3 separate regions of the Homo sapiens genome follow, and all the other regions are linked to region 1. Evidence: fine-mapped expression QTL. A gene starts in region 1. Each other region holds a variant in brackets. All regions are shown on one strand. Distances are from middle to middle. Region 1 holds the start of ZFAND5 (zinc finger AN1-type containing 5). Region 2 has its middle 76 kb from the start of ZFAND5. Region 3 overlaps LINC01504 (long intergenic non-protein coding RNA 1504).

Region 1 (10,976 bases):
TCCAAAATGAGCAAATGGAGCTAGATAATCTAAAGTTTAAAAAAAAATTGGATGCCCAGCACAAATGGTTGAGAAAAAAGTTTGATAAATGGCTCATGAACTCGAGGCTGCATTTTGTATAGGTTACCATATTTTACAACCAGCTAGGGATTTTTAGCTGTGCCTGTAACTTGTTTAAGGGCAAAAGGGCAGCTCTGCCAAAACACCTTGTCTGGCCCAATAATATTCTACAGTCTCACTCGACAATCCCTAAACCTCAATTACAAAGAAATAAAAAAGCACAGCATTTCCAACACAGTATCCTTGAGGGGGTTAGGGAGTCAGGTGTAAGTAACACACATCTTTACTCAATGACTTAAGAGTCATGTATTAAAAGACACTGAAATCCTCGATTGCAAAGCCAAGGGTATCTATTAACTTATTATTGGACCAGTACAGACATCTTGATTTCTTCTTTGTAATATCATAAAAACTCTGAAACGTTCAATCTTACCTTGATTTTTCAGATGTGCTGCCAGCAGCACCTTCACAGTTGTTTAAGCTAGTGTCTGCTCTCTGTACAGATGCAGAATCTGAGGTAGGACTGTTGGAACCACTAGCTGTTCCTATTTAAAAAAAGGATTTGTAAGGAACCAATGAACACTACAAAAACTCACTTAGTATCAAGACGTAGTAATAAATACTTGCATTTAATTAGGTTAGTGATATAAGCATTCACTGTGCTGTAATCCTATACTTGAGTATCCAAACAAAAAATATTAAAAAGTCAATCCAATGAACACAAGTGTGAAACAAAATAACCCCAAAAAAGAAAACTGAAAAGCTATAAGATGCTTGTAGATAGTCATTCATTCCTGATCAGTCATGTCAAGCACTTGGGCTGTTGCTTGAATTTCAAGCTCTTATCAGGTGTTCTCTCCATGTGCTTTCAGCATTCTCAGCCCCAATTCTTGGTTCTGTATTTCTGTCCACCAGTTCTTTCAAATGTGTTTTTCCTTGGAAATAACTTACCCATTGGGCTCATTCTGCCACTATTTTGCTGCCTCTGAAGATGTTCTTTGTAGCAAACTGAACACATTCCATTTGTCCTAGGATTTCCATAAAAGCCACATCCTGTGCTACACAGCATGGGCCCCGGGGTCTGGTTAGTCTCCTGAGCCATATTTTTCTGCTATAGATGAAACGAAATTTCAGAAATTAGTGTTATCACCAAAATATAGTCTAATATAATCATCGGTATACCGTTGTAATTGCTACGCAAGTTTTAACAAAAGCCCAAATTCCGTTAATCATTAAAAAGGGTGGGCAGAGATAATTATCAATATTTTGTTGCCTTTATAAAAGCAAACTGTTTTAGGACCAAAAAAAAACCCAAAAAGAAATTTTATCAATTATTAGGGTATTTTTACCTATCACTATTCTTGGTTTCAATTTATGAAAAGGTCTGTTAGCTCTCAGGGTTATGTTTTAATCAATTTGGGAAACTGGTATCTTTAACTTTTCACTCTGCTGCACTACAGGCAGACCATTTCAAATGTTTTTACTTAATTGGCTAATCACAATTATCACTGAGTCTTGATATTTATAGGTAGTTCTTTAAACTGGATGAATAAAGTTTTCTTAAAACACCTGTACATATCTGGGCTTCATCAGTAATTTGACAAATCTGCTGAGGCAGAGCATCTGTACTTTTTAATGCTGAAACATCTTCATATAAGGCTGAAAAGAGAACTGGTAGCCCTTCCTGCTACCCTGGCACCAACAAGTAAATCTCTAAGAATTTAGGGTCAGCTGGTTTACGAAACTCCTTTTACGTTCTCCATTTGAAGTTTCAGAGTATGTCAAAGCCAGTGCCTAGGAACCTGCAATACACAAATTATGAACCAGATTTCTCAGCCAAAGGCACTATTAATTTTAACAAGTGCTTGTCTTCCTCATACCAGAAAATAATAAAACCGTTCCAAGCTCAAATTCAATGTATTAAAGTCAATATATACACATAACCTTTAGTAATGGTTAATATTCAATGCTGGGTTACCAGAAAAAGCTTTACATAGCAAGCATTTGTTTCCAAGGAAGATTTGCTTTTCTAAAAGTCTTGTTAAAACGCTGTGCTAAATTATTAATAAGTTTTCCTCTGGATGAGAAAATACATATTAAAGAAAAATTATTTTAAAATAAAGTTGTGGAGGGTTTTCATGTCATCTTAAACATGTATAAGCATATGTACAAAAAGCATATTTGAGAGCATTTGCTTAAAGGAAAATTCGTGTGCTGTAACTTGTGGTCAGTCATTTTTTCCAACTACATACTAGAATACACTTTTTAGTGAGTTATTAAAAAACGATGTTTTAACAAGTATTAACTACCAAAATTAGAAGATGGGAGAAGGGGACTAACCAATTTTGACCTGGCCAGACCCCTGGTAATTATTCCCCAAAACATTTTATCTTCCCTTTTGTAAGTAAAAGTGCACCATACAAATATTAAGACAATCTAGCTTGTGTGGAGTGACCAAGATCCACAACTTACTTTTAACAACAGTATTAATTTAGTTGACACTGTCTCTTTAAATATTAACTGGAATTTAGCTGACTCATTTTGGAGCAGGGTAGTGTAAACATTTCAACATCACTTAGGAAGTTTATTAATAAACACTTTCAGCTGGGTTTTTAAATGAGCATAATAGGAGCAAAAAATGCTTTCAAATGATAAATATGTATGTATTTGCATGCCCACCACGCACAAAATATGTGTGAATGTTTGCCCTATGCATGAAAGTTGGGTCACTCCTTAAAACCAGTTTAAGTATGCTAGCTTACATTTTCTACACTGAGGCCCAGTCTCATGTGACATTGGCTTTAAAGTTTAAGGCCAAGCGATCAACCTACCTAAGTAATTTTAGTTAATCTGATTCTTAAAATATTTGTTTTAGATAAAATGGAGGATACTCCATCTAAAGATTTCACACACTCAGAGATAACAAAGTATTCCAACTTTGCTTCAGAGAACATGTCTACCTTCATTTCATTATAAATAACTTTCAACTGCGAGACACACAAGAGGTACCAGGACATGAGTCTTCTACATGGGTTCCCATCTTTTAGATTTTTTTCCCCTAGAAAGCCAGCTTTTAAATGCCATCACATGTGCACAGCTTGCTTTAATATTTCTCAGAAGCTCAGATCACATGGGAGGGCGCTTCAGCCTGTCACAAGGCTGCAATGTGACAAGCTGAGCTGGATGGAGGCTCTCACATAAAGCCTAGTCAACAGGGGCCTCTGAAATCAGCTTCTATTTATATCTCAAAGCCTGCCAACTCCTACACAACCCCAAGAACTAAGGATGCAGCGTTCATATATCTAACATAAGAAAACAAAAAAAGGGCTGCTAGTTTTTTCCTAATGTAGGAAAAACTACAGAACAATCTCAATCTAGAAGATGAAAGCATAGTCAAAGCTAAAATGGTCAAGGTTGTTGATAAAAAACTAAGCACAGTGGAGACAGTGTAAAAAAGAATCCTCATTTAGTGAGGATTTAGGGGATGAAGTGGGGGATGTGTGTTCCCATTAGGTATTGCATTCCCCTTGTATTTTAGAAAAAAATACCATTACTATTTATTGCCTTTAAAGTAATTAGCAACTTGAGCATGCACGTGTCAGCTCTATCAGGTATAGCTAGAATGCAGATTTTATAAAGTTTATGGCTTCCTCTAACTTACAGCTTAAAAAAACACCCGAGTGTAACTGAACAATTCTCCAATTCCAATTCTGAACAAAGAGCTTTTACACCTATGGAATACAGTTCTTTCAGGTGCACATGATGTGATGAGATGGCATGAATTCCCACTCACCTGGGAATGGAGACCTGAGTTCAAGTCTCTAGTCTGCCACTAAGTCAGTGACCTTGGGCAAGTCCTTACTTTCCAGATTTCAGTTCCCTCTTTGCCAAATGGAGTAGAATTGACTTTTAAAGGCTCCTTTTCAGGGCCTGGGAGATAGAAAACAGGAGACAACTACAAAGAATCCTTAATTTTTTAGGGGGGTGTGGGGAAACATTTTAACAAAAAACTTCAAAGATAAAATTGCAGTATTTTCACCAACTGAGTTCTGAAAGCCTACTCTTTAAAAAAAATCCTAAAAATAAGGAATAAAATACATTCGTTTATGTTTTTAGAAGTCTGTATCTAAATCCCAGGTTTAAGAACGGGGATGTGTGACCTATATGTTCCTTTATCTTGGTATCTCCTTAGATGCTATCCCTTAGGAGACACTCAATCAATAAAGATAATCCGACCCTTCCCCGAAAACACACCTCCACGGAGTGCGTGGAAAGCGAGCAAAAAATTTCACATTCATCAGCCTAAATGCACCAAACAAAGGAGGTGTTCCATTTCCTCCATGAAAACGGATCTCAGGATAAAAACGCAGCGACGTCGAGAAGCCCAAAAGACGACGCCGAGAACCCCCGGCCCCATGTTCCAATGGATTTTGGAACAAGTTCGGGTCCCACTGATACCCCATCCCCCTCTAAGCAAAGGCCTCACTCAATAAAGCCCAACAGGGCCCTCTCCGAAAACCACTGAGTCATGCAGAACAGCAGCTCAGCAGGCCCGGCCAGCCCTTCGCCTGCAGGCCCCACGCGGATCCCCGACCCCCGACCCCCGACCCCGAACGGCTCCTCTTAGGGGAGAGCTAGGGGGGGCTGCAACGGGCAGGGGGCGCGGCCGCCGCCTCGGCCTCTTTGTTTCTCTGGGTCGTGGTGCCCACGCCGGGCGCCGCCGCGGAGGCGAGCGGCCTAGAGGCCGGCCCCGCAGAGGCGGCACGCCGTGCATTGTTTCCCGACCGTGCTGTGGAGCGAGCCAGGGACGCCGGGAGCCAGGTCTCGGGCCACGACGACAGGATGACGCCTCCGTCTTTGTGCTTCCTGGGCTGGCGGGCGGGCTCCCCTCCCCCGGACGCCGCCATCCGCGGCCTGCTCCGGCTTCGCCATTGGCCCGCGGCGCCCCGGTCCCTTCACTCCCGCCCCCGGCCCGGCAACAAGGAGCCCGGCTCCCACCCGCAGCCCCGTATCACTCACCCTGCAGGGTCCCAAATGCGAAAGCCGGGTTCGCGCGCGAAGCCGGCACGATGAGGCCGGGCCGAGGCCTCCGGGAAGGCTGAGCCGGGCGCCCTGGTGCCGCCGCCGCGGGCCGGGAGCGGGTCGGAGCAGCAGGCGGAGGTGGCGCCGCCGCCGCCGCGGGGTCTTCCTTTGTTCCTGCAGCAGCGTCGAGCGTGGCCGGGACACGCCGGAGCTCGGGAAGTGGGAGGAGGGAAGCGAGGGGGGGCCGAGGAGGAGGTGGAGGGAGGACCGGCGGCCGCAGCGGCTAACGCTGCTCGAGGCGCTCGCCTGTCGTCGCCTCACGCCTCCACAGGCCGCAGGTTGGGCGGACGAGGAGGGCGAGCGGACCGCGCGCCGCGAGGCCTGGGGCCGTAAGGGCCCGCTGATGGCGCTCTTCGCCGCTCCTGCCACCGCCGGGGAAGCTGCGCGGCTCCCGGGAGCGAGCGAGCCCGCGTAGGAGATGCACACAGCTCCGCGTCCCGGCCGACTAACGCACTCGCCGCCCGGCGCCCGGGCTGTGAGGGAAAAGAGGGGGAGGGGGCGGGACCCGTGCGTCAGCGAAAACCCCGGCGGCGGCGGCGGCGGCGGGGAGCGCGGTGACGTCGCGGGCCCAAGGCCACGCCCCCGGTGCCCTGTCAGTAGGTCCAGGAGGCGGGGCCGAGACGGGTTGCTGTGCCTTCTCGCGGAGCCCAGCCACTGGCCTGGCAGTCGGCCCCTAGGGTGGAGCTGGGAAGAGCGAGTCCTGTGGAGGATGCGTTTCTATTTTTAACCCAATTGTCCGCCCTCAGCCTCCCTCCTTCGGATTTTCTCATTCAAACCCGTTTTTCGCCATCCTAGTTCTCACGCTTTGTCTCCAGCCCTGGGCAGACATTCCCTCCCCCAAGAATCGTAAGGATTCACCCCCAGAAAAGGAAAAGAATTGCCTTATGGCTTCGAGGTCTTTTCTGTTTATGAAACCTCCTCACTCCCCACACCCATTTTGAGCTCCGAAGTCCAGCCCGAGCGTGGCCCTGACGCAGCTGGCGGCGTGCGTTCGCTCGCCCAAGGTCACGGGTGGTTGTGCGGAGTGAGGAAACGCGCGGCCGCCCAGGGCTGCCAATGCCCCGGCGGCGCTGTTCTGAACAAACTGTTTTGGCCAGCCTGTGAAATCCCTGGAAATTGACGATTCCAGCAAAGCGTCGTGAACTGGGAAAGCACCAAATGTTCTACTCAAAAGCCGCGAAGGGACAAAACAAGCTAGACCCGAGGCCCAGATGAAGCGGGAGGAGGAGGCTTGCGAGAGGAAGTTCAAGGGGGGAGGTACTAGGCGGGCAGTTCAGGCACGAGGCACAGGTCCCCCATGGGTGAAAGGATGACTTTACCCGGAACACTGGGAACCTTTTCAGAGCACAAACAAAAAACATTTTCAACTGACCGCTCCAAGTGAATTTCAGTTCAACTCAAAATAACAAAATTACTAAGTCGGAAAGGACTTCTGAAATTTTCTAGTAAACAACGGTCTAACGAATACATAGAAATGATGTTTAGGGTTTATATTAGCCACATATAGAATGGAGAAGAGGTCCCTTCAGTGTTTCTCAAAGTTGGTAATCAGAAAAAAAATCACCTGGGGTGATTAAAGATTCCTACGCATCTCCCCTGGATATGGTTTTGGTTGTTCCGGGGTGGGAGCGGGGGTGGGGGGGGGCCCATATTGCGCTTCAGGTGGTCCTTATTTATAATCTGTATTTGGGGGAATGCTATACTGATAGCTTGAGCCACCACTGCCAAATCAAACAGTTCTCCGCCACAGTTAGCAAAGTACCTGGAGCATAACAACCTTTTGTTTTGTTTTTTAACAAATTCGGGTTTATTACTGTGATCAATTAATGTATTAGAGATTTAAGTAGTTTGGGTCACTGGTCCCACGACCACTGCAATTTATTTCCTTAAATTAGCAGATGAATTAGTAAAAAAAAAAAAAAAATAGCAGCTACCATTTACAGGCCATTTTCAGTGCCAACTATTTTCCATTTAGGGTCTCATTTTATCCTCACAGCAATTCACTGAGATAGGTACTATTATCATGTCCCTTTCTACAGATAAAGAAACAATGACTAAAAAGGCTTGCCCAGGGCACTGAAGGGCAGGGAGGCAATGGAGGTGATTATTATTGAGAACAAAAATAACTTGAATTTTAACTTGAATTTTTTTCTTTCTCTAGAATTGGAGTTATAGTGAGTGAAACAAGATAATTCCTGAAGAAGCATACTTTAAAAAAAGTCTAAGGGTAATGAGGCAAGCTCATTATTGAATAGTGTATTCCATAATATTATGTCACCTTCTGATAATTCATCTTCTCTATCACCCATTTATAATTTTCTCTGAGACTGTTTCAATCAAGAATGTTGCAGGTATTGGACCTAAACATACCAAGATTCCTTTTTAGCAGCTATTTTCTAGTGGTTCTCAAAATGTGGTCTCCAGACTACCTGGGAACTTATTAGAAATACAGATTCTCAGGCCCCAGCACCAAACCTGTGGAGTCACAAACTGGGGGTTAGCACAGCCGTCTGTGGCTTAATAAGTCCTCCAGGTGATTCTGATGCATACACAAGTTTGAAAACTATTGACTTAACCCTACCATGGCATCAGGTGACCCCTCTTTTTTTCAGATGGCTCACACCATGTGAAAGGGAAAAGTTTAAAAAAAAAAAGTCTCATATTACTGGTGTAACAGATTAAGGGATATACTTCTAAGAAGGTTTTTGTTTTATTTTTGTTTTCTTATATTTTAAATTTTCACTTGCACTCCAAAGACAAACTGAATTGCTAAACACAGAATATATAAGAGAATGCTTCTAATATAACATGCCAAAGGGCTTTGCTCTATAGTCATTAGGGAAGGTCAACTTTGGCCTGAAACCAACCTCTGTAAAAAAGATAATGAGTAGCCAGTCGTGGTGGCTCACACCTGTAATCCCAGCACTTTGGGAGGCCATGGGGGGTGGATCATGAGATCAAGAGACTGAAACCGTCCTGACCAACATGGTGAAACCCTGTCTCTACTAAAAAATATACAAAAATTAGCTGGGCATGTTGGTGCGTGCCTGTAGTCCCAGCTACTCGGGAGACTGAGGCAGGAGAATCACTTGAACCCAGGAGACAGAGGTTGCAGTGAGCAGAGATTATGCCACTGCACTCTAGCCTGGTGACAAAATGAGATTCCGTCTCAAAAACAAAACAAACAAACAAACAAAAAAACAGATAATGAGCAAAGTTGGTCGTGCTCAAAATGTGATATTGGTTAGGTGTGGTGGCTCACGCCTATAATCTCAGCACTTTGGGAGGTGGAGGCAGACGGATTACCTGAGGTCAGGAATTGGAGACCAGTCTGGTCAACATGGCCAAACCCTGTCTCTACTAAAAATACAAAAATTAGCTAGGCGAGTGGCAGGTGCCTGTAGTCCCAGCTACTCGGGAGACTGAGGCAGGAGAATCACTTGAGCTGGGGAGGTGGAGGTTGCAGTGAGCCGAGATTGTGCCACTGTGCTCCAGCCTGGGATAACAGAGCGAGACTCTGTCTCAAAAAAAAAAAAAAGTTTTGCACATTTGCTACTTTCCAGGCACTCACTTAACTTGGTGCTGGGATATACATTCATGTAAAAAAAAAAGATGTTACCCTGTTCTCATGGATCTTACTGTCATTTGGGGAGAAAGATATTATCATATAATATATAATTATGAACTGGTAAATATTTTGAAAGAAAAGCATAGAATGCTATGGGAGCATATAACCAATCATAACGGATCTTGAAAACTCACCCAGGTCTGAGTTCCAACCATCCCCATGGCCAAAGGAGCCAGGCTTATTTCCTTAAAGTAGGTAACCTGGTAGTCTGCTTAAGAACTCAGGTAAAGTCATTGCAGGTTCTCTTACACTTTTCTTTGTAAACTAGGCCTGGAAAGGGGATTGATGATGGGAGAAGAGCAAATGTAATTAAATTTCTTAGAGAAAACTGACATCCCTTAAAAATAGCAATATAAGTTATTAGTCCACTGTAAAATGTAAAAGACCTGAAGTTATTTTATCTTGACATATAAGTTCCTATTATGGAGACAAGAATTGCTGCTATGACATTATTATAATACTTGGTCATAAGTAACTATTCATTTTCTGTCTGTGCTTGAGTAGAACATGGTGAAGCACAAAGCCTTTTCTAGGGTCTTAAAAACTTCAGAGTGGCCGGGTGTGGTGGCTCATGCCTGTAATCCCAGCACTTTGGGAGGCTGAGGCGGGATGATCACCTGAGGTCAGGAGTTTGAGACCAGCCTGACCAACATGGTGAAACCCTGTCTCTACTAAAAATACAAAATGAGTTGGGTGTGGTGGCGGGTGCCTGTAATCCCAGCTACTCCAGAAGCTGAGGCAGGAGAATTGCTTGAACCCGGGAGGTGGAGGTGGCGGTCAGCGGAGATCACGCCATTGCTCTCCAGCCTGGGTAACAAGAGCGAAACTGCTTCTCAAAAACAAAAAACAAACAAACAAACAAACCCACACACAAAAAGCACAAAACTTTGATGTGTCACTGGACGTTCACATAGTGCCCTTCCTCCCTTTCGTTCCCAGCCCCTTCCCAGATTTCAAAGATCAAGGTAAAGGACTGTTTTATAGAAGTATTTTCAAAATAATTGGCTAAAAGGATTATAGTATTGTATTTAGAGCAAATCCACTAATTTAAAAATTAAGGCTGGGCGCGGTGGCTCACGCCTGTAATCCCAGCAGTTTGGGAGGCCGAGATGGGCGGATCAGGAGGTTAGGAGATCGAGACCATCCTGGCTAACGCGGTGAAACCCTGTCTGTACTAAAAATATAAAAAATTAGCCGGGCTTGTTGGCGGGTGCCTGTAGTCCCAGCTACTCCGGAGGCTGAGGCAGGAGAATCGCTTGAACCTGGGAGGTGGAGGTTGCAGTGAGCTGAGAATATGCCACTGCATTCCAGCCTAGGCAACAGGCAAGACTCTGTCTCAAAAAAAATTAAAAATAAATAAATAAGAAATTGATAAAGCAAGTTGCAATTTCATTATTATATAGACCTTTTGGTAAATTAAAATTCTTAATTATTTTCTCTGAAAATAACTTGATCAAAGAATCTTCAAATAAAAGACATAGATATCTTACCAGATTAGAGAAGACTTTCTGACACTATCTAGATACTATCAACGTAGCATTAAACAATTTTTGAGACTATTTGAAAAACTAAAAGCTTTTATTGTTTTTAATTTTCTTATTATTTTTTTTGAGATGGAGTTTCTCTCTCGTCGCCCAGGCTGGAACCTCCATCTCCCAGGTTCAAGCGATTCTCCTGCCTCCGCCTCCCTAGTAGCTGGGATTATAGGCTCCCGCCACCACCCCCAGCTAGTTTTTGTGTTTTTAGTAGAGAACAAAATCTGGCAGTCTTGTCTTGAACTCCTGACTTCAGGTGATCCGCCCACCTCTGCCTCCCAAAGTTCTGGGATTAAAGGCGTGAGCCATCGAGCTGGGCCTGCCTAATCGTTTATGTAAATCAAGAACTTAGGTTGAAGGAAACTGATGATTTACTATGTATATATATTTTGTTGTAAACACCATTTAAGAAACAAAATATTTTGGTCTCAACTCTTAAGAAATTTTTTTTATTGAACAAGCTAAGTGTGGGTTGTTAATCTCAGTAGTTAGCTCTGGGATTGTCTCAGAAACAATACTTTGGGGCTGGGTGAGGTGATTCAAGCCTGTAATCCCCGCACTTTGGGAGGCAGGAGGATCATCTGAGATCAGGAGTTCGAGACCAACCTGGCCAACATGGCGGATCACCTGAGGCAGGTGATAACCTGAGGTCAGGAGTTCAAGACCAGCCT
Region 2 (10,976 bases), 76 kb after region 1:
GATAATCTCCCTTGTGATGAACTCAAAGTCAACTGGTTAGCAATCTTGATTACATTGTAAAATCCATTTTCTAGTAATGTAACATAATTACAAGTATAACAGAGAACAGAGATCATGGGGACATCTTAGAATTCTGCCTTCCACATTTAAAATATGAAATTATGCAACACTTTTTCTTCTGAAAGCTTTTCGTCTCTTCCATGCTGTGCAGATGTTTCTCATTAAATATACATAAAACCTTTTTAATTGCCTTTTTAGTGCTGAATAATATTCTTTTGTAAAGGTCTATCATAATTTAACAATCTCTCTACTGATGTCTGTTTAAATTGCTTCCATTTTTAAATTATGAACGTTGCTGTCATATCAAGACTGCTGCTCTACCTTGACTAATTATCTCTTTAAGATAAATGCTAGTTGAGGAATTGCTGATCAAAGGGTGTACACATTTAAAATATTGGTATATATTTCCAATCTGCCCCCTGGAAAAGTTGCATCAACTTACATTCCTGTTAACAGTTTCTTAACACTTTGGGAGGCTGAGGCAAGTGGATCACCTGAGGTCAGGAGTTCGAGACCAGCCTGGCCAATATGGTGAAACCCCGTCTCTACTATCAATACAAAAATATTAGCCAGGTGTGTTGGTGGGCACCTGTAGTCCCAGCTACTCTGGAAGCTGAGGCAGGAGAATTACTTGAACCCGGGAGGTGGAGGTTGCAGTGAGCCGAGATCGCACCATTGCACTCCAGCCTGGGCAACAGGAGTGAAACTCCATCTCAAAAAAAAAACAAAACATCAAAAAAACAGTTTATTAAGATTGCTTGTTTCCCTACATACACTCTTGCCAACACTGGATTCTCACAATTCTTTTAATGTTCACTAACATAGAGATGAGGCATATCCTATTCTCTACTTACTATTTCTTGATTATTTGTGGGATTGAACATCTTTCCCTGCTTTTATTATCCACATATGTTGCTTCATTTGAGAACTGTCAGTCATTTTCTTTGTCAGGGTTCTTAGTTATAAGCAACAAAAACCAACTATAGTTAACCTAGGTAGAAACAGATTTTGCTGGAAGGATATGGGAGAGCTTAGAGAATCGATGAGAAGGTTGGAGAACCAGGCTTGGTAAAGGAGGGCTAGGCACTGGGAAATGCAATACATCTAATACCACAAGAGAGGACAGTTAATATGTTGTCATTGGTATCCTGTCTACAACCTACCACTGCTGTCTTGGAACACTCAACACTACTGTGAATAAGTTCTCACTTGCTCCCGTCTTTTCACCATTCCTCAAGACTCAGAGTCCCAGGTGGAGGCACTTGACTGACTGAGTCTATGTCAGATGTCTGAACGGGATAGTCAATGGATGAGTGGGGGATTCTCTGGCCCCTTTGGCTTCTATAGTAGAAAATGGGGGCTTACTTTCTACCAATACTTGCCTGCATTAGACGGCCATTCAGATGCTGGGTAGCCCACCCTCAAAAAGACAAATATCATTTCTTCATTTTTTCTATTGCAATTTTTTTTCTTATTTATTAGATATTTTTAATATTGGGGGTATTAATAGTCTGCAACATGTGTTGCATATATCTTTCCTTTTATTTTTTCTTTTTCAATCTTATTTATATACTGGATATTTTTGTGGCAAAGAAGCCTTTTAAGAAAAGTGACCCCAACCAGTTCTTTCCTACAGAATCCAGTAATCCACATGGCATTGTTTCTTAATCAAACAAACCCTGCTGTCCTAGCCACAGTAGATTAACCAAGGAGTCTGTTTATGGAGAAAGGTGGTTTGTTACACCAAGATTCTTTGCTTTTGCTTTTCTTTGTTTTCTACATAACAAGATTACAGCATACTGAATGATACAGAATTCACCCAAGTTCCTTCTTCTGGAAGTTAAAGACGTTAGTCAAACAGAAGAATATGGGTCATTCAAGCTTGGATTGCAGTCTTGAGTGTTGAGTTATTCCTCTGAAGCTCCTAGAAGCCTGCAGCCCAACACTGGAACACCTAGGACCTAGAGGAGGAGTGTGGCTAATGATGAATTTCTTATTTGAGCCCACATTCTTTTTTCTTTTTTTTTGAGATGGAATCTTGCTCTGTTGCCCGGGCTGGAATGCAATGGCACGATCTCGGCTTACTGCAACCTCCGCCTCCGGGATCAAGCAATTCTCCTGCCTCAGCCTCCCAAGTAGCTGGGATTACAGGCGTGAGCCACCACACCTGGCTAGTTTTTGTATTTTTAGTCGAGACAGGATTTTGCCATGTTGGCCAGAATGGTATCGAACTCTTGACCTCCAGAGATCAGCCTGCCCTGGCCTCCCAAAGTGCTGGGATTACAGGTGTAAGCCACGGTGACAGGCCTAAAACTAACATTTTATTTTTTAATTTAATTTTATTTTTTTGGAGATAGAGTCTTGCTCTGTCACCCAGGCTGGAGTGCAGTGGCATGACCTCGGCTCACTGCAACCTCCGCTTCCTGGGTTCAAGTGATTTTCATGCCTCAGCCTCTGAGTAGCTGGGACTACATGTGCCACCATGTCTGGCTAAGTTTTTGTATTTTCAGTAGAGATGGGGTTTTACTATGTTGGCCAGGCTGGACTCAAACTCTTGAGGTCAGGCAATCCACCCACCTTGACCTCCCAAAGTGCTGGGATTAGAGGTGAGAGCCACTGCACCCAGCAGATAACTTTTTTTTTTTTTGAGACGGAGTCTTACTCTGTTGCCCATGCTGGAGTGCAATGGCAAGATATCCTGAGCCGATATTCTTATGTAACTTTGTAATAAGCCTTCATAATATAAGTGATTTGTGAGTGTGGCTTTTCCCCCCTAGTATAGTTAAGAGCTTTTATCATTATAAACCTCTTACTGCTTAAACAATTTAAAAGAAATGGTGATGTAACATGGGTAATTCTTTCAAGTGTTTGCTCTTACAGATATTCCTTGATAGCCAGTTTTAGAATTTGTTAGACATTGCGTTTGTCAAAAAAAGTTCTTCCTCAATGCTTACCCTAGCATGCTCTGGCTTAACTAGTTCCCTCTTGAACCAAGGAATACTATGTTTTGCTAGAGTGACCCACAGTCCTTCTTCTTCACCAGACTCCCTTAGATGGGGTTAAAGTTCTTCCTTTTCCAGAAAGACTCAGTATGAGTATTTGCAAAGCTCTGAAGAGATGTAGTTGAACCTCATATATGCCTTAGATCAAGAAGTGAGTATGGTGCCAAAAGAAATTAATTTCCATATAAAGCCAGGAAGAAAGGTTGGGCTCATAAAGATAACCAGAACATGTTTCCAAAAGACTCAGTGGGCAAAGAAACCCATATTTACAAATCAATACTTTCCAAAGCTCATAGAGAAAAATAAATAATGTTTTCAGGGTAACATGGTTTTCTAAATGTACTACTTTCAATTAAGGCCTGTAAGTAGTCCCCAATGGTGCTTCACGAAATTCCTTTGTGTGTTCTCACCAGGTTTATTCTAAACTCCTAGTGCACAGTAACCTTTTTTTCTCTAGTTTTGTCAAGAGATACACATGGGTAGAAAATTCCCTCTTTGATATTTTTTCTACATTGGAAAGATCCACTTCTCAATAGTGGGTGAACAATTTGACCAGACCATTTTCCCACCAGTGAGTTGATCTCTAAGATACTAAGCTACAATTCCCTGTTGGGCACTCTATTGAAAAAATATGCAGAAAAGAGCCATCCATGTGTACCAAATAGACAAATTGAAAGTACATGTCCTCATCTAGGCTAAAATTTGATTGGCCTTTTTAGCAGATTGTTAGTGAAGATAGAGGCTCTTGGAGGTGGCAAGTGTGAATGTAAGTGTATGTACCTGTGCATGTGTGTAACATTTTTCATGCTATGCATTAATTTTGACTAATGATTTCTCGGAGTTGCTATAATCCCTTTCTCCCACTCACGGAAAATAACTGGACTCTGTTCATTTGACTATTTACTCTCAGAAAATGAGTCAGGGAGGGGTAGAGAAGTAACTCAGAAGGAATTTACAAAGTGGGCAGAAGAAATTTAATTTTAGCTTCGAAAATTTTAGCTTTGAAATTTAGCAGAACTCAACCCGCCCTGCACATCACAAGTTAAGAGGAGCAACTCTTGCCCCAGGTACAAGTGTGTTCCCTACTGGGGAAGCCATGTTAGGGATGTAATGAGCTAGAAGTTGCATATAGATGACAACAGGAAACAGCATATTTGATGGGTCTTTGGCTGGACTTTTCTGCAATCAGGTGAAGCCAAAATGATTCTCTAAGAACCAAGTATGGTATCACTCAAGCTTTGCTATCTTGTTCTCCTTTGCCTGTTTTCAGTACTTATTTTAATGTATGTTTCCTATAAAATTGTCCATCTATGTGGTTCTAGTTTTAGCATTTTATCTCCTCCTACTTGCTTATGGCTCAGCCCCAGCTCAGTCATTCCTTCTAATAGTGCCCTTATTATTCCTTCTTCCCCTGCTTCTTTTCCTACCTTGTTTCTCTCCTTGTTTCTTTCAAACAGGTCTAATCCTGAGCAAACTTGTGAAATTTCAACCTGTCAGCCCTTCAGACCTGAATTGTTTCCTCTCCTCAATGGTTCCACTTTTCTTTTCTTTCTTCTTCTT[C/CT]TTTTTTTTTTTTTTTGACAGAGTCTTGCTCTGTCATCCAGGCTGGAGTGCAATGGCATGATCTTGGTTCACTGCAACCTCTGCCTCCCAAGTTCAAGTGATTCTCCTGCCTCAGCCTCCCAAGTAGCTGGGACTACAGGCACCCGTCACCACGCTGGCTAGTTTTTGTATTTTTAGTAGAGATGGAGGTTCACCATGTAGGCCAGGATGGTCTCAACCTCTTGACATTGAGATCCGCCGGCCTCGGCCTCCCGAAGTGCTGGGATTACAGGCGTGAGCCACCACGCCCGTCCTGGTTCCACTTTTCTATCCCTTAGTGTTATTGCTTTCTTTCCACCAAAATAAAACCTTTTTTTTTTTTTGCAATCTATTTGCTCCAAATATTATTTTCCTGGGACAAATTTCAGTTTAACAGCTACCCAAGTGTTTAGATAAAGGTATGAAACACTGAAGTGAAATCCCTGGACTGGCTAAAGTTCCGGAGACTTCCATGTGTCTTCCTCTATCCTTCATATAATTTCTTGAAACAGTGGGGATGTAGCTGTGAGAAGCACTTTAGTTCCTCTTTCAGGGCCTTGAAGAGGTCAGACCCTTCTGAGAGGAAGAAAGCATCTGGGTGACAAATATTGGAACTGGGTTTCGGGAAGCAACAAAGCTGGACCAGAAGTCCAGGCAGACCCAAAGAGCAGGGGAGGGCTGGCTGCTGGAACAAGGTGCCTTGTTTAGCTCTGCAGAGACCTGGGACCAAAGATAGAGTTCTCAAACTGGGGAAATGGCTTATAACAGCCAATATCTGCTGGGATTCAGGTGCCGTTGCCTAAAAAGTCAAGATTTAGGATGTTAATCCAGAAAATTGACAGATGTTGGCCAGGTACTGTGAATATCTCAGCAGTTTTGGGGCTGTGATCAGAGAAAGATTGTTCTGGCCACACTCAGTGCCCCTAGATATTCTACAGATACCCTAGCTCATAGTTCGCCTTCAAAACTCACCTCGACATCCCCATTCCAGAAAGCTGTCCCTGACCACTCAATCAGGAGTGCAGTGCCTATCCTAATGCGTCCATGGAAACTTGTCTGTGAGAGCTTCCATCAAACCGACTTGTGGTGGCCTTTTTATCTGACTTTCTTCCTAGATCATTCCAGCACAAGGGCACAGACTGTGCACTTACACTGTGTCCACTGTGCTGATCACATGCCTGGCCCAGCGTGGATACTTAGCAAATGTTTGCTGAATGAGTGAATACAAGAATGATGTCCTTTAGGATGGCAGACAAAGGAAAACTTGAGCCACTGCAACACTAGACCTCAGAAGAAAGTTCTGCTACCAAAACGGAAAAATGTGTTTTTGAACTCAAATTGTGTTTGATGGCCTTCTTACTATTAATGGAGATCAACAGGTTGTAGAGAGCTGCATTATCAGTAGATGGGAAGCAAAGGAGGAGCGAGAAGCTGACTCATTCCCTTGAGCTTGCAAAGTATACAATACACCCCAGACAATGGGGAGAAACATCCATCCGCCCATGGAAATCAGTGAAACAAAAGGGGCCTGGGTGGACACCCTTGCTTCCCTCCCGTGCCTACTCTGGCTCTCAATCTATTTGTTTTCACCAAGGCTCTATATTTTGGGACTTTTGTGTTGGGCTCCTCCCCATCTCTCTGGGATAATAAAACCAGAAAAGAAATACTGGGACAGGTTCTGGCATGTGCAATTCTGTGTGAGCCATGGGAGTGGATGGGGCATTTGGAAATTTATGGAAGTTGAATGCAAAGTATGAAGAGTTGGACTGGAAAAGGAGTAGGTTGGGACAGGTGACTTCTGCTTTTCTTTTAAGCCTTTCTATATTTGAATTTCTAAAATTACCTGCATAAATTACTTCCATAAAATAACAAAAATACTTATTTTTCAAGACAACTAAGAGTCAGATGGAGATAGCAGTCTTGGGGCATGCAGGGCAGTGGGAGGGAGTGAGTGAAGAGAGGCTGTTTTCATGTCTGGTTTGGCTCCTTTATGAGGCTACTGCTGCTCTGGCAAGATGAACTGGGCCCTGTGTGAAAGGAACACTTGCTCAGGATTCCTGGATTTAGTTCTTCACAGGCCAACCTCTCTCCACACTTCAGTCATTGCCCCAGTTTCTTAACTCTATTAGCTGCCAGTCCTGTGGCCCATTTACCTTCTTCATGATTTGTGCACTTAGTTTCTGATCTCAACTTCCTTTCTAGTGACATTTCATTTCTTGTCCTAGATCCTAAAGTATTCATGGTCAGTTTCTAAAGTAATAGTCTTCCTGACTTGACTTGTCCCCAGGTTACCTCTTCCAGATGCTTCCCTGAGAGGATGCTCTCTCCTGTTTTGTCTCAGTTCTTGCAGAAGTACCTATACAGCCAAAAGGACCTAGAAAAGGCCTGAAAAGGGTTGATAACAAGCAGTAAAACCAGGGCGGAACGCTTGCAGACATACCAACATTCCTTTCAAGACCTGACTCATCCTCTTCCTGGTTGGGTCATCTTGTATAAGTTACAGAGACTTTCTGAGGCTTGATTTCTTTATCTGCAAATGGAAGATACTAATAGTATTTATCCCTTAATAAAAGTTCACTATCTCTTTGGCTAGAGTCACAGAAAGAGAAAAAAGTTCAAAATCACCACTGTAGCAGAAGTGTAAAGTTATTTACGCTGTTTTCAAATACGCAACAACAACAAAGTATGGCTCCTTTTTTATATACTAGGTCTGTTGTCAGCAAAGATCATCCTCACTCAACCACCCCCAACCCAAAGGGTGACAAGTGCAGTTTTAGTCTCACCAGAATTTTATTCAATTTTATAAAGAAAATCATGACTTTAGGTAAATTCTTTATCTCTTTTAGATAAAGTGCTCAGTCTCTCAGGTTTCTGCTCACTCTGTTTCTCTTCAAGATGACATCTGAATGTGAGGCTTAAGCGACTTCAGCAGGACAGAGGACATTGGGAGTTCTTGGCATCCTTTTGACATTGTTGGTCTCTGCTGTGTCATGGCTGGTCCGCGCTGCTCCCTGGACTCATGACCACTGGGAGGGACTGGTGCAATTTTGGGGTGTTCTGCTGGCATATGAACTGAAGCCTGTAACTGGTGTAATGCATGGACCATTCTTATCCTTGCTGACATGACCTTACCTTGTTAGTGCTGCAGAGGTCCAGTGTGACTTTCCTAGCTCTTTTTTTTTGAGGCAGAGTCTCACTTCGTCGCACAGGCTGGAGTGCAGTGGTGCCATTTACTTTGACCTCCACTTTCTGGGTTCAAGCAATTCTCGTGTGTCAGCCTCCTAAGTAGCTGGGATTACAGGCATGTGCCACCATGCCTGGCTAATTTTTTTTTTTTTAATTTTTAATAGAGATGGGGTTTCACTATGTTGGCCAGGCTGGCCTCGAACTCCTGACCTCAAGTGGTCCACCCCAGTTGGCCTCTCAAAGTGCTGAGATTACAGGCATGAGTCACTGTGCTAACCTCTCCTAGCTCTTCAAACAGGAAGTCTGCCCTGCAGTGTAGACCGCAGTATGATTAGCAGTTGGTTCTGAGTCACTTGAGCCCTGATTTGTGGTATTTGCAGACTTTTGTGGTGCAAACATTTCTGCCTTGGCATTTCAAGGTACCAGTGTGGTGTCACCAAATGTGAAGTTGGAAAAAGATCTGCCTTACAGATACAATAGATACATATAAGCTCAAGAACATAGATAATATGTAAAATGTAGTCTAATAACTATGGAGTGACAATTTTGAATATTTCTTGTCTTTATTTTTAATAGAATTAATTTAAATGTAAGTTGAAATATCTTTGTTTTTAAGTATTGCTGTGTTTAACAACTGGCTTGCAAAGTTTCTTATAATTTAATAGGCAGGTCTCTGACCCGGTGAACCATCTCTGGCTCACCACTAACAGGTCATCTCATCTTTTTTGTCAAGACATCTTCTATCAAGCTCCTAATCAGGCCCTCAATCAAGTTCCATGTTCTCTTTGGCGGCGTATTGGAAGCGTGAAGTTTAGGCCCACACTTTGCTATCCACAAGCTGACAGAGAGGCAACAAGAGACACAGTATGCTCTCAGCTACTAAAAAGGAAGTGGGACAGAAGCTCCTCTGCCCATGCCATTAATCTTGACTCATATAACTCACTTCCCCCTGGTGGAGTCTGTCAAATAGTCAGAATGTCAAATTCCCCTAGACTCTTGAAGAAAACTCACTCAATGGCCAATTCACAAAAGCCCATTTCACCAAATGAGAAATTCATGAAATTTAGTTTCTTTTTGTTTTAGTTGACCAGTTTTCCTAATAGCATTTTAAAGAAGAATGTCAAATTTGGTCTCCTGCAGCAGTCAACTGTGTGGCCTTTTCTTTCTCCAGAGTTTCAGCCACTTTCTTCTCCACTTTGCAGGTTCCACAGCCTAACCTGTTTCTTAGAACTACTTAGTAGTCATAGGAGAGAATGCAATTGCTCTAGGTCCTCCATTGGATGCTCTTCATTCTTCATTTGGTTTTGTTTTGTTAAAGAAGACAAATCAAAATAGAGAATGGCTGTCAAAAATAACAAGCCCAGGGGAGTTCTGGAGATTAACATCAGCACCAAACATTGCTCACAGCACTGGTCTCTGTTTATAGAGCAATCTCTAGTCTGTTTACTCATCTAGGTGTTTTAAAATGTTGGGCTCAAGTATCTGGGCTTGCAGGTATTGAGAAACTACTGAAGGCACAAATAGAGGAATGACAAGTTTGGATCTGCTTTAGACACTGAACTATGGTAGTAATACGTGAAAAGGACCAAAAAAGGGAATTTGTAAGCAGAGAATCCAGTTAAGAATTCATTAGAACCCAGGTGAGAGATAACAGTCTGCACTCCAGTAATGGAAGTGATGGAATGATAAGAGCTTTTTCCTGGCTACCCTAACTTAGAGGACTCCCTGTTTACTCTCTAGCACTGTGCCCTATTTGTGGAAATTTATAAATTTATATTTAGATGCCTACTTATCATCTGCTCTCTCACTAGACTGTAAGCTCCCTGAAGCCAGGGTTTGGATGTTTCATTTCCCAAAGTATTCTCATCACCCAGCACAGTGTCTGGCACATAGCACACGCTCCACAGACACCTGGGAAATAAAGTGGAATTAAGAAGAAAGAAAAGATATTCATCAGTGGGAGCAAGTTAGTTATGTTTTATAGTAAGGGAAAGATGCTCATGGAGAAGGAGGAGTGAAAAGGCAGAGGAGAGACAATAAAAGACGGCACAGACTCCAGGATAAGCAGGAGTAAACAGGATAAGGACAAAAGCAGCAGAATTAGCTTTGCCTAGAAGGGCTCCTCTTCTTCTGTCATGGGAGGAACGGAAGAATGGATGTGTATGGAGGTTGATTGGATTTTAGGTTATAAAATTGATGGTTTATGTTTCCTGGAGGTGTGGTAGGCACAGTTATCAACTGAGAGAAAGAGAGAAAAGGAAGAGAAAGAGAAAGAGGAAGAGGAAAGAAAGGGAGGAGGAGGAGGAAAAGAGGAAGAGGAATTAAAAGTTAAGAGGGTGGTGAGAATTTAACAAAAATTACTTTAAGGAAGGGAATAAGTTGGTGACCAAAATACCTAAAAAGATTTCTCCAAAAGGGACCAGCTGAGGAATAATGTGACCAAATTAGCCTATCTCCAAATCTCATAGGTGAGTGACAGGGAAGTGGAACAAGAAGATGGGAGGGTTGACTGTGATGGAGATTTGCAGGAGGCCATCTCTCCTCCAGTTAATGTGTCTCACTGCAACAAAGGGGAAGATTTCAGGACTCCTGGGATGGGTTTAGATGAATCATTCATCTCTCCAGCTGTTAAGAGTTTTGTATATGTTAGATAGGACACAGACATCAAAAACTGTCCCTCAGCGGTCTGCTTCTCTGGAGAAGGTCTCACCAAGGGGTTGGAGCTTGACTTATCCTGCTGTGTCCTAGATCTGTAAGGTAACCCTGTCCTTTACTACAACTTTGTCTAGCAAGAGAGCAGTGTCTATCTTAAAAATCTTGCTGATATCCAAATATCTTTAGCACTTAGATGACTGCCTTCTATATGAGGAAGTACATAAATTAAGACTTTGATAGACCTGGGTTTGATTCCTTCCTCTGGCATGGAGAAGTTTTGTGCTCTTGAATAAATTAGCTAACCTTTTCAAGCCTTCATTGTTCAGAGTAAAAGGGGGGGGAGTCACTGCAACAGTAGAAGGATTAAATGAGATGATGTATGTGATTTATCCAGCAAAATGCATAGCACAAAGTAGACATTCAATAAAGATTTTGTCACCTCCCTACTTCTTTCTCTCCTTTCATCCCCCTTTTATAACCAGTTTTCTGTACAGA
Region 3 (10,976 bases), 40 kb before region 1:
TATATATATATTTTTTTTGAGATGGAGTCTTGCTCTTGTTGCCCAGGCTGGAGTGCAATGGCACAATCTCTGCTCACTGCAACCTCTGCCTCCCGGGTTCAAGCAATTCTCTTACCTCACCCTCCCAAGTAGCTGGGACTACAGGTGCCCACCACCACACCTGGCTAATTTTTTGTATTTTTAGTAGAGACCGGGTTTCACCACGTTGGCCAGGCTGGTCTCAAACTCCTGACCTCTGGTGATCTGCCTGCCTCAGCCTCCCAAATTGCTGGGATTTTGAGACTCTGTCTAAAAAAAAAAAAAGGATGGACTGGACATGGGAGGGAAGTCCCATAAGATGATCATAATGGAGCTGAAAAATTTCTATCGCCTAGTGACATTGTAGCCATTTTGACATCAAAGTGCAATGTACTACTCAAGTGTTTGTAGTGATGCTGTTGTAAACAAATCTACCACACTGCTAGTCATATAAAAATATAGCACAATTGGCCAGGTGCAGTGGCTCACGCCTGTAATCCCAGCACTTTGGGAGGCCGAGGCAGGTGGATCACAAGGTCAAGAGATCAAGACCATCCTGGCCAACATGGTGAAACCCCATCTCTATAAAAATACAAAAATTAGCTGGATGTGGTGGCAGGCGCCTGTAGTCCCAGCTACTTGGGAGGCTGAGGCAGGAGAATTGCTTGAACCTGGAAGGTGGAAGTTGTAGTGAGCCGAGATTGTGCCACTGCACTCCAGCCTGGCAACAGAGGGAGACTCTGTCTCTCTGTCTCTCTCTATATATATATACATATATAGCACAATTATGTACAGTACATAATACTTGATAATGTAATAAACAACTTGCTGGTGTATGTATTTAATATACTATATATATATATACACACACATATTTTTTTTTTTTTTTGAGACGGAGTCTTGTTTTGTCACCAGGCTGGAGTGCAGTGGTGCTATCTCGGCTCATTGCAACCTCCGCCTCCTGGGTTCAAGCGATTCTCCTGCCTCAGCCTCCCAAATAGTTGGGATTACAGGCGCATGCCACCACGCCCAGCTAATTTTTGTATTTTTAGTAGAGACGGGGTTTCACCATGTTGGCTAGGATGGTCTCCATCTCTTGACCTCATGATCCACCTGCCTCAGGCTCCCAAAGTGCTGGGATTACAGGCGTGAGCCACCGTGCCTGGTCCTATACCATACTTTTAATCATTATTTTATAGTGGACTCCTTGTACTTATTTTAAAAAGTTAACTGTAAACAGCCTCAGGCAGGTCCTTCAGAATGTACCCAGAAGAAGGCATTGTTATCATAGGACGTGACAGCTCCATGTATGTTATTGCCATGAAGACCTTCCAAGTGGGACAAGATGTGGAGGTGGAAAGCAGTGATATTGATGATCCTGACACTGTGCAGGCCTAGGCTAAGGTGTGTGTTTGTGTCTTAGTTTTTAACAAAAAATTTAAAAAGTAAAAAACTAGTAAAAATTCTAAAAATGAAAAAAAGCTTATAGAATAAAAATATAAGGAAATAAAATATTTTTGAGCAGCTGTACAATGTGTTTTAAGCTAAATTTATTATAAAAGTCAAAAATTTTTAAAAATTAAATAGTTTAAAAAAGTAAAAATGTTACAGTAAGCTAAAGTTAGTTTACCTTTGAAGAAGGAATAGGTTTGTAGCATAGGAGCAATAGGCCACACCATATAAGCTAGGTGTGTAGTAAGCTATACCATCTAGGTTTGTGTGAGTACATTCCCTGAGGCTAACACAAGGACAAAACCACCTAACAACACATTTGTCAGAAGGTATCCCCAGTGCTAAGTGACACATGACTATAGTTTGCCAACCCTGATCTAAAGCTGTAATTCAAGAAAACTTAAAATATTTACTAGTTTGAACATAAGTATGTAGTGAGCCCAGACTGATTAATTATGAGTTATACTCATTTCTTTGTTGATTTGTTTAATAAATGCTGTATTTCTGAGTGATAATCATATAGTCTGGTCCCTTTCCAATAACTTTATACCTATATTCTATTATGAAGATGTAAACTCTGAACTTTAGTTTAATAATAGCATATTTCTGGACCAGGAATTTAGGTTTTTAAAAAGTTTTTGCTACAAATACTTAGGTTAAATCTGTCACAGAAATGATGTATCACATGCTATAACTGCAAAATAAGGGACAGAGAGATGAAGGTTAAGATGATGCATCCCAGAGAGTTGGTCTTTCATTCTGCTATTCATTCAAACAATATTCACATGTCAACATGTGCAAGGCACTAGAATGCATTCCTTGGAGAATTCCAGGATGACATAGACATAAACATGATCTTCAAAGTCTCCAGTGCTTTCTTTGGATAAAATGAGAATAGAATTGCCCTGGCCTTGGGAATTAGTTTAGGGAGAGCACATGACCAAGCTAGAACAAGTGGACTCTTGCCATGAAATTTTAGCCTCAAGTGGAATACCTTCGCTGTAAGAGCATGCAACTATGTCATTGAGGAGACAGTTCATTCGTTCCTGCCCTGTGCTACATAGAGTTGCCCTTTTTCCAAGGATGTTTGGTTTGCAAAGGGGATTAAAAAGAAATCATGCTGGAAAAGTAAGTTGGAGTGAGCTGTGGTGAGCCTTCAAAACCAGAGGGAGGAGCATGAACTATATTCTATAGATAAAAAAGCTTCTTCTAATACCATAATTGATTTTAGTGGGTTAGCAATAAACCAGGTGAATACAACATCCATGTCCATGATGTGCTAAAGACCAGCCTGAGTTATGCTAGGTAGAAGGCTGATTACAGATTGGAAGTATTTGGCATTCCGTGCAGATTTTCCTGTTCTGCTGCTCTACAGCAGGGTTTCTCAACCTCAGCACTGTAAGAATTAAAGAAATAGGAAAGAAACATGAAGGGTGGCTCGACAGTCAACAAGGACAGGTTTATTTTAGAAAACAAACCTGAGAGGGGCTTCTGGCCGAGTTAGGTCAGAGCCCACTCTCTTACACACTAAGAGGTTTTAAGGATTCAGGGTGGAAGAGTTTATCAGAGGCTTGGACTGCTTCTGTGTCTCTTTGTTGTGCTTATCTGGGAGGGAGAGTTGTGTGTCTGTTCCCATACATCTTTCTGCAGCTGCAGGCATACCCCCCAATTCTGCTTTTAGCTTCCCTAACTTAGTGCACCTGAAGGGAAAGGAATGTGCTTATTGGGGCCCACTGTTTTACCGGGGCCCATTGTATGAGGGCGAAGTTTGGCAGTTACCCAAGAGCCTTTCCCCCCACCTCTGTTTATCTGTGTTTTACTGTCTGCTCTTTCTGGCTGCTTGTAGTTAGAAGAGAAGTGATTTCCTTGAAATGCATGACACTAGAAAGAGAGCTGGAACTTAAAGTGGTGGTGTTTGTCCAACATGACGGTGCTCCTGCTCTGTCAAGCACTGGTGACATTTGGGCTGGATAATTATTTGTTGTGGGAGACTGCTCTGTGTCTTGCAGGAGGTTGAGTCTCCACCCACTAGATACTACCAAGTAGTACCACCTCTCCTGCTACAATAGGAAAAAATGTCTCTAGACACTGGCATGTGTGCCCTGGAGAGTGGTATAGTTTCCTATTGCTGTGGTAAGAAATTATGACAAAGTTAATGACTTAAACACAAATTTATTCTCTCACAGTTCCAGAGGTTGGAAGTCTGAAATGAGTCTTATGAGACTAAAATCAAAATATTAGCAGGGCTGGTTCCTTGTGGAGGCTCTGAAGGGAGAATCCATTCCCTTGTCTTCTTTCAACTTCTAGTAGCCACCTATATTCCTTGGCTTGTGTCCTCATTTACCTCTTCAAAGTGCATCTTTCCAAACTTGACTTCTGTCATCCTATCGCCCTCTCCTCCACTCTGACTCCTTCTACCTTCCTCTTAGAAGCACTGTCGTGATTCTCTTGGGCACACCTGCATAACCCAGGCTCATCTCCTTATCTCAAATCCTTAACTTAATCACATCTGCACGGTGTTTTTGCCATGTGAGGTAATGTTCACAGGTTCTGTGAGTTAGGATGTAGACATGTTTGGGGGCCCATTATTCAGTCTACCACTAGGGCAAAATTGCCCCATGTTGAGAACTACTGCCACAGAAGAATGGGGCCAGATAACCTAGATTTGAGTCCCAGCTGCACTTACCTACTAGCTGTGTGACATCAGTTTTCTGTTTTTTCTTTTTTTTTTGGTGGGTGGGGGAGACAGAGTCTTCCCCTGTCTCCCAGGCTGCAGGGCAGTGGCGAGATCTTGGCTTACTGCAACCTCCGCCTCCCAGGTTAAAGCAAGGCTCCTGTCTCAGACTCCCGAGTAGCTGGGACCACAGGCGTGCGCCACCACACCTGGCTCATTTTTGTATTTTTAGTAGAGATGGGGTTTCACCATGTTGGCCAGGCTGGTCTCAAACTCCTGACCTCAGGTGATCCACCCGTCTCGGCCTCCCAAAGTGCTGGGATTACTGACGTGAGCCACCACACCCGGCCAACATCAGTTTCTCATCTGTAAAATGGAGCTAGTAGTAGTACTTACCCCATGGAATTTTTTTTTTTGAGAAATAAATGAGATAAAGCACACAAAGTCAAGCAGTTATCAAAGTCCTTGTGATATGGTTCTTAATACTTGTTACCTATTGAAAATAAAAGTAAAGTTACATTTAGGATTTGTAAATATGTGGATTAACTTCATGGACAAATGTAGAAAATGACAGTGGTCTCTAAGGAACAAGCCCCTGGCTAACTTGGAGTAAATAGCACAATCATAATTGTTTAATTATGAACATGCTCTAATTCTCATGCCACTCTTACAAGGTATGTGAGGTCACACAAGAGTTTCTCCAATAAGTTTTTATATATTTATTGAAATGTACTAAAAGTTTCTATTTTATGCTTTTTACATGTAGTAACTCATTTAATGCTCACAGCTACTCTGAGACATAGATAATATTGTTATTCCCATTTTACAGATGAAGGAACGAGGGCACAGAGAGATTCGAGTTGTCACCCAAGCTCACATAGCACCAGTGACAGAGGTGAGATTTGAATCAGGCAGCCTCTGTCTAGAGTTCCCTTCCTAACCTCCATTCTATACTGCTTTCAAAGATCCAGCCCTTCCCTCAAATCACGTTTTCTTACTTAGACTAGGGTTTGATTCATGTTTACTCACTGGGAATAAAGGTCAGTTAAACAGAATGAGAGAACAGGAAAGTCTTTCAAAATGATGCTTCTGTCTACTTACATTGTCTGTTACTTTAACAACTTAGGGATTCTTGGAGCAAGTAAAGAACCAAATATAAAGACTGCTTTGTGGGAGGTAGCTTGGATCCTTCATCATTTTTTTTCCCCCCATAACTCCTGAGTTCCACTGGAGACACAGATTCTCTGGGGGTAAGATTAGCGGATTCGTATTTTAACAGACCTCTGGC[G/A]GTTCTTCTCTATGCTAAAGTTTGAGAACACTGCTTTCAGCATTTCTAATCTCATCTCAAATTCATCAGGGAGCTGTTTCCTCCTTCATGAAAAAATCTTTGACTTAATGATAGCTACCCAGGCCTACCTTATTAGCTAAAGGGGGCATAGAGACTTAACTCTCAGTGGTTGACAATTATTGTAAAGTAATTCTTGCCGTTATTTTTCTCCCCTAAGGGTAAACTTAGCAGCAAATGGCATACTAGTAACTTAACCAATTGAAAGGGTAACAGCAAAACTAACAACCAAGTTTGCTTTTGATAGGTAGAATTGGCTGCCTATAAGGTGTGACATGAAAGTTGAAGGAAGGCTCACTTTTGCAAATATCTTTCCCACTGTTCTGCCAGGGGGAAGCAATTTTTTGGTTTGGGTTCCCCTAAATTCCAAATATGTTACCTAGGAGGAGTAATAAGTTATACATTAAACTGTTATGATTCAATCACAGCTTTAAAAAGATCGCAAAATTAGCTCTCAGGTTACTTAGCAAATAACCAATTAAGGTCTTGAGAGGATAATATTTGGGATGGGAAAATTTAGGTGGGTAGAAAAAGGCTGAGCAAAGTCAAGAATGTAGGCTGTTACCAAAGGCCAAATGGCAATACTGGACCAGCATATCTTCTTCTGCTATTTCCTTTATGCCCCTGAGGGTTCTTCTGAAGCAGGAGTTGGCAAACTTTTTCTTTTCTTTTTCTTTTGAGACAGAGTCTCACTCTGTTACCCAGGCTGCAGTGCAGTGGCATGATCTCAGCTCACTGCAACCTCCACCTCTGGGACTCAAGCGATCCTCCCGCCTTAGCCACCCGAGTAGCTGGGACCACAGGTGCACACCACCACACCCAGCTAATTTTTTTGTATTCTTGGTAGAGACAAGGTTTCACTATGTTGCCTAGGCTGGTCTCAAACTTGTGAGCTCAAGCGATCCGCCTGCCTTGGCCTCGCAAAGTTCTGGGATTACAGGTGTGAGCCACCACACCTGGCCGCATACTTTTTCTATAAAGAACCAGATAGAGGCTGGGCATGGTGGCTCACGCCTGTAATCCCAACACTTTTGGAGGCTGAGTCGGGCAGATGACCTGAGGTCAGGAGTTCAAAACCAGCCTTGACCAATATGGTGAAACCCTGTCTCTACTAAAAATACAAAAATTGGCTGGGCATTGTAGCATCTGCCTGTAATCCCAGCTACTGGGGAAACTGAGGCAGGAGACTCGCTTGAACCTGGGAGGCAGAGGTTGCAGTGAGCTGAGACTGCACCATTACACTCCAGACTGGGCAACAAGAGGGAAACTCCATCAAAAAAAAAAAAAAAACCAGACAGAAAATATTTTAGGCTCTTCAGTCATGTGGTCTCTGTCGCAACTGCTCAACTCTGCCATTGTAGTGTGAAAGCAGCCATGGACAATATGTAAACAAAACAGTGTGGCTGTGCTTAGTTATGAATCCTAATATTTGAATTTAATATAATTTTCATGTTATAAATTTTTAATTATCTTGTTTTTTCTCAACCATTTAAAATATGAAAATTATTCTTAGTTCAGGGCACATATAAAAACAGATGGTAGGCTGGATGGGCCAGTTTATTGATCCCTGTTCCAAAGCAAAATCAATTTGCTGTTTTCAATACATACTCCATGCTATCCTACTTCTTTACATTTGCTTTCATTATTCCTTCCACTTACGTAGAAGGAGCCCTACACACCCCAACCTACATGCCCATATGTACCCATCACCTAGTTCAATTATTAGCTTATTTTCAAAGTAAACTCTCATCCTCTAAGTGCCTTCATCTATACTTCTCTGATGGCCTTGATCATGGCAGATTTGTATTACTTTGTGGTCTGTGATTTTTTTTTAAATTTTATTTGTTTACGTATTTATTTATTTTTGAGATGGAGTCTTGCTCTGTTGCCCAGGCTGGAGTACAGTGGCACGATCTCTGCTTACTGTAACCTCCGCCTCACGAGTTCAAGTGATTCTCCTGCCTCAGCCTCCCGAGTAGCTGGGACTACAGGCACACACCACCGCGCCCAGCTAATTTTTGTATTTTTAGTAGAGATGGAGTTTCACTGCGTTGTCCAGGCTGGTCTCAAACTCCTGAACTCATGATCCTCCCGCCTTGGCCTCCCAAAGTGCTAGGATTACAGGCATGAGCCACTGTGCCCAGCCAGGATGTTTTATTTTTATATCCTCCATGGCACCGAGCCTAACAGAGTTAGCAAAGTGTCCTAAGTCAAGGAAGAACCATCAGCATTTAGGAAACAGCATAAAGATTGTACCCGGCCAAAAGTGGAATGAAAGTAGTTAAAAGAGAAGTGAAAACGTTTCTGAACACCTATAGTGGTTTGAATGACAGCCTCCCAAAAGATAGGTCCTTGTTCTAAAACCTGAACCCGGACAGGCGTAGTGGCTCACGCCTGTAATCCCAGCACTTTCAGAGGCCAAGGCAGGTGGATCACGAAGTCGGGAGTTCAAGACCAGCCTGGCCAACGTAGTGAAACCCCATCTCTGCTAAAAATACAAAAATTAGCTGGGCATGGTGGCGTATGCCTGTAGTCCCAGCTACTCGGGAGGCTGAGGCAGGAGAATCACTTGAACCTGGGAGGCGGAGATTGTGGTGAGCCAAGATCATGCCACTGCACTCCAGCCTGGGCAACAGAGTAAGACTCCACTCAGATAATAGACAGATAAATAAATAAATAAATAAATAAAACCTGGACCCTGTGAATGTGACCTTATTTGGAGAAAGGGTCTTTGCAGATGTAAGTAAGTGAAGGATCTTAAGATGAGATCATCCTGGACTACACCCAATGATAAGTGTCCTTAAAGAGACAGAAGAGAAGACACACAGAGAACGCCATGTGAAAATGGAGGCAGAGATTGGAGGGATATAGGCACCTGGAATGCAGAGGGAGTGAATTCCTGCCAACACATAAATTTCAGACTTCTGGGCCCCAGATTGTGAAGAATAAATTTCTATTGTTTTAAGCCACTCAGTTTGTGGACATTTGTTACAGAAGCCCTAGGAAGCTAATACAACCCTCACCACCTGCTTTCCCAAGTTGTGTTAACAAATATCTAATATTTATTTAGCACTTGTTATATTCAGCTTTAAATAGATAATTACATTAAACTTTCACAGCAATCTTATAAAATAGGCATTATTATTATTCCTTGTACAGATGAAGAAACTGACATCTGGAGAAGTTGAAGTAATTTGCACAAAGATTCACTTGGCTAGTAAGTCATGAAACCAGAATTGAACCCAAGCAATCTGATTCCAATTCTCTTCTCTTTTTTAAAAAAAATTTATATATATACATTTGTTATTATACTTTAAGTTCCAGGGTACACGTGCACAACGTGCAGGTTTGTTACATATGTATACATGTGCCATGTTGGTGTGCTGCACCCATCAACTCGTCATTTACCTTAGGTATTCCTCCTAATGCCATCCCTCCCCCTCCCCCCACCCCATGACAGGCCCCGGTGTGTGATGTTCCCCACCCTGTGTCCAAGTGTTCTCATTGTTCAATTCCCACCTATGAATGAGAACACGTGGTGTTTGGTTTTCTGTCCTTGAGATAGTTTGCTCAGAATGATGGTTTCCAGCTTCATCCATGTCCCTACAAAGGACATGAACTCATCCTTTTTTATGGCTACATACTATTCCATGGTGTATATGTGCCACATTTGCTTAATCCAGTCTACCATTGATGGCCAGTCCTCTTCTCTTAATCACTGTTACCTGTTAGGTTCTTAATCATTCTCCTTACATTTCACATACCTTAACAGAGAGGAAGAAATGTTGGTTAATGACTTCCTTCTTTGGGGAATGATATTTCCTAAACTGGATTTCTGCTCTCCCAGCTACTCATTCTTGGTGAACAAGCATAGAATAGTCTACTGCTCAGGTCAGGACAACAGAATCTCTCTCTGGGTCTCCTGCCCTTCATCCTTCTCTGATTCCTAAGGTGGGGGAGCTTGGAAGCTTTATGTTAGCCTTTAAAGAGTATGGCCTTCATGAAAGTCTGTTCCCCTGAGCAGCTCTATTTGAATGCATTTAATAACTGTAGCTTCTAGTTTCCAATAAGGAAAATAAATAAGAGGAAACACAACTGCAGGCAGCACTGGGATGATGTCAACAATGGAAATATCAGCATGGTTCCTGGAAAAGTCATGGAGAGCAAAGTGCTCAAGAGCCATTGAAATCCTTTCATAGGAATAGGTTCTGAGGACCAAATGTTGTTAGAGTCTTCAGGGAAGCAAGATAGCACAGTGGTTAAGAGCATGAGTGCACTTGGGTCTAGGTTTGAATATCCTGGCATTATCACTTACTAGCTCTGTGACTGAGCAAATAACCTTGAGTCTCAGTTTTCTCATCTTCAAAGTGGGGAATAAAAATATTACCTACTTCATAGGTAATATTTATGTAGAACACTTGCACACGTAAGCCCTCAATATTATCAAAGTGTTAGCTGTTAAATTGTGTATGAAAGTCTTGAATGAAGGTTTTCACTCACCGCCTTTTCTCTCACCACCACCCTTACTCCTTTCCCTTTTACTAAATATAATTTTGCCACTTTGGCTGGGCGCGGTGGCTCAACGCCTGTAATCCCAGCACTTTGGGAGGCCGAGGCGGGCAGATCACTTGAGGTCAGGAGTTTTGAGACCTCCTGAAACCTCATCTCTACTAAAAATACAAAAAATTAGCCGGGTGTGGTGGCGCATGCTCATAATCCCAGCTACCAGGGGGCTGAGGCAGGAGAATCACTTGAACTCTAGAGGTGGAGGTTGCGGTGAGCTGAGATCGCACCATTGCACTCCAGCCTGGGTGACAAGAGTGAAACTCCATCTCAGGAAAAAAAAAGAAAAAAAAATTTGTCACTTCATTAACTTTTGAGTACCTCTATGGAGACCAAAAGTAAGTCAGCAAGAATAAAAAGAAGAATGCACAAAGCTTACACAAACTTTCCTTGAAAAATAATTACAAAAATAAAAAATGTTTTCAGAAAAAAGAAATTTTACATTACCAAAATCAAGATTATTTTACTCTATTCTAACCCAACAGATACAGGTTATTTCATAACCCCATTATGTGGAAATTTAGGTAGGGCCATTTTCATCACTTAATTCCTCTCATCCCCCACTCCTGCTGCCTCCTAGAAGCATTCATTATCTCAAGATAATTTCACTGATTATTGAGGCATTATTATTCTGTCGCTTCTATTGTGACCTCTTCATTTCTGAAATCACTCCTTTGCTTCAAAGATGACACACTGGTAAGGATACTAATTTTCCCCTACTCTTGTATTAACCAGGTCCCATAGCCCCAGCATCTGAAATTTGAAAAACCAGAATGTATAATACCATTAGTAGAAAATAGCATATGTAGCAGTCATTGCAACAGCCATTTTGCTGATAACACTTCATGCTTTCTTATCACTGTTTTCTATCACCATTACTTTCAAAGCATTTTCTGTCTGCTTGATACAGATTACATGCATATG

Evidence for each region.
Region 2: its variant is fine-mapped to the expression of ZFAND5 in whole blood (INTERVAL, PIP 0.97).
Region 3: its variant is fine-mapped to the expression of ZFAND5 in whole blood (INTERVAL, PIP above 0.99).

Annotation. Positions count from the first base shown.
Region 1 is chr9:72,359,617-72,370,592 of GRCh38, forward strand. It overlaps ZFAND5 (zinc finger AN1-type containing 5), which reads right to left and starts at 5,592. Exons shown (of 7, transcript NM_001102420.3): 1 at 5,080-5,592; 2 at 3,854-3,990; 3 at 1,012-1,171; 4 at 494-605. The coding sequence starts at 1,162. RefSeq lists enhancers at 4,595-5,298, 5,299-6,003 and silencers at 4,611-5,440, 5,451-5,830.
Region 2 is chr9:72,435,365-72,446,340 of GRCh38, forward strand. No RefSeq gene overlaps it. Among named protein-coding and RNA genes, the nearest start is that of ZFAND5, 76 kb to the left of the region's middle. RefSeq lists an enhancer at 8,829-9,088. The variant C/CT (reference allele first, on the strand shown) is at 4,623.
Region 3 is chr9:72,320,016-72,330,991 of GRCh38, forward strand. LINC01504 (long intergenic non-protein coding RNA 1504) reads left to right here. Exons shown (of 5, transcript NR_110952.1): 3 at 8,649-8,706. Among named protein-coding and RNA genes, the nearest start is that of LINC01504, 20 kb to the left of the region's middle. The variant G/A (reference allele first, on the strand shown) is at 5,433.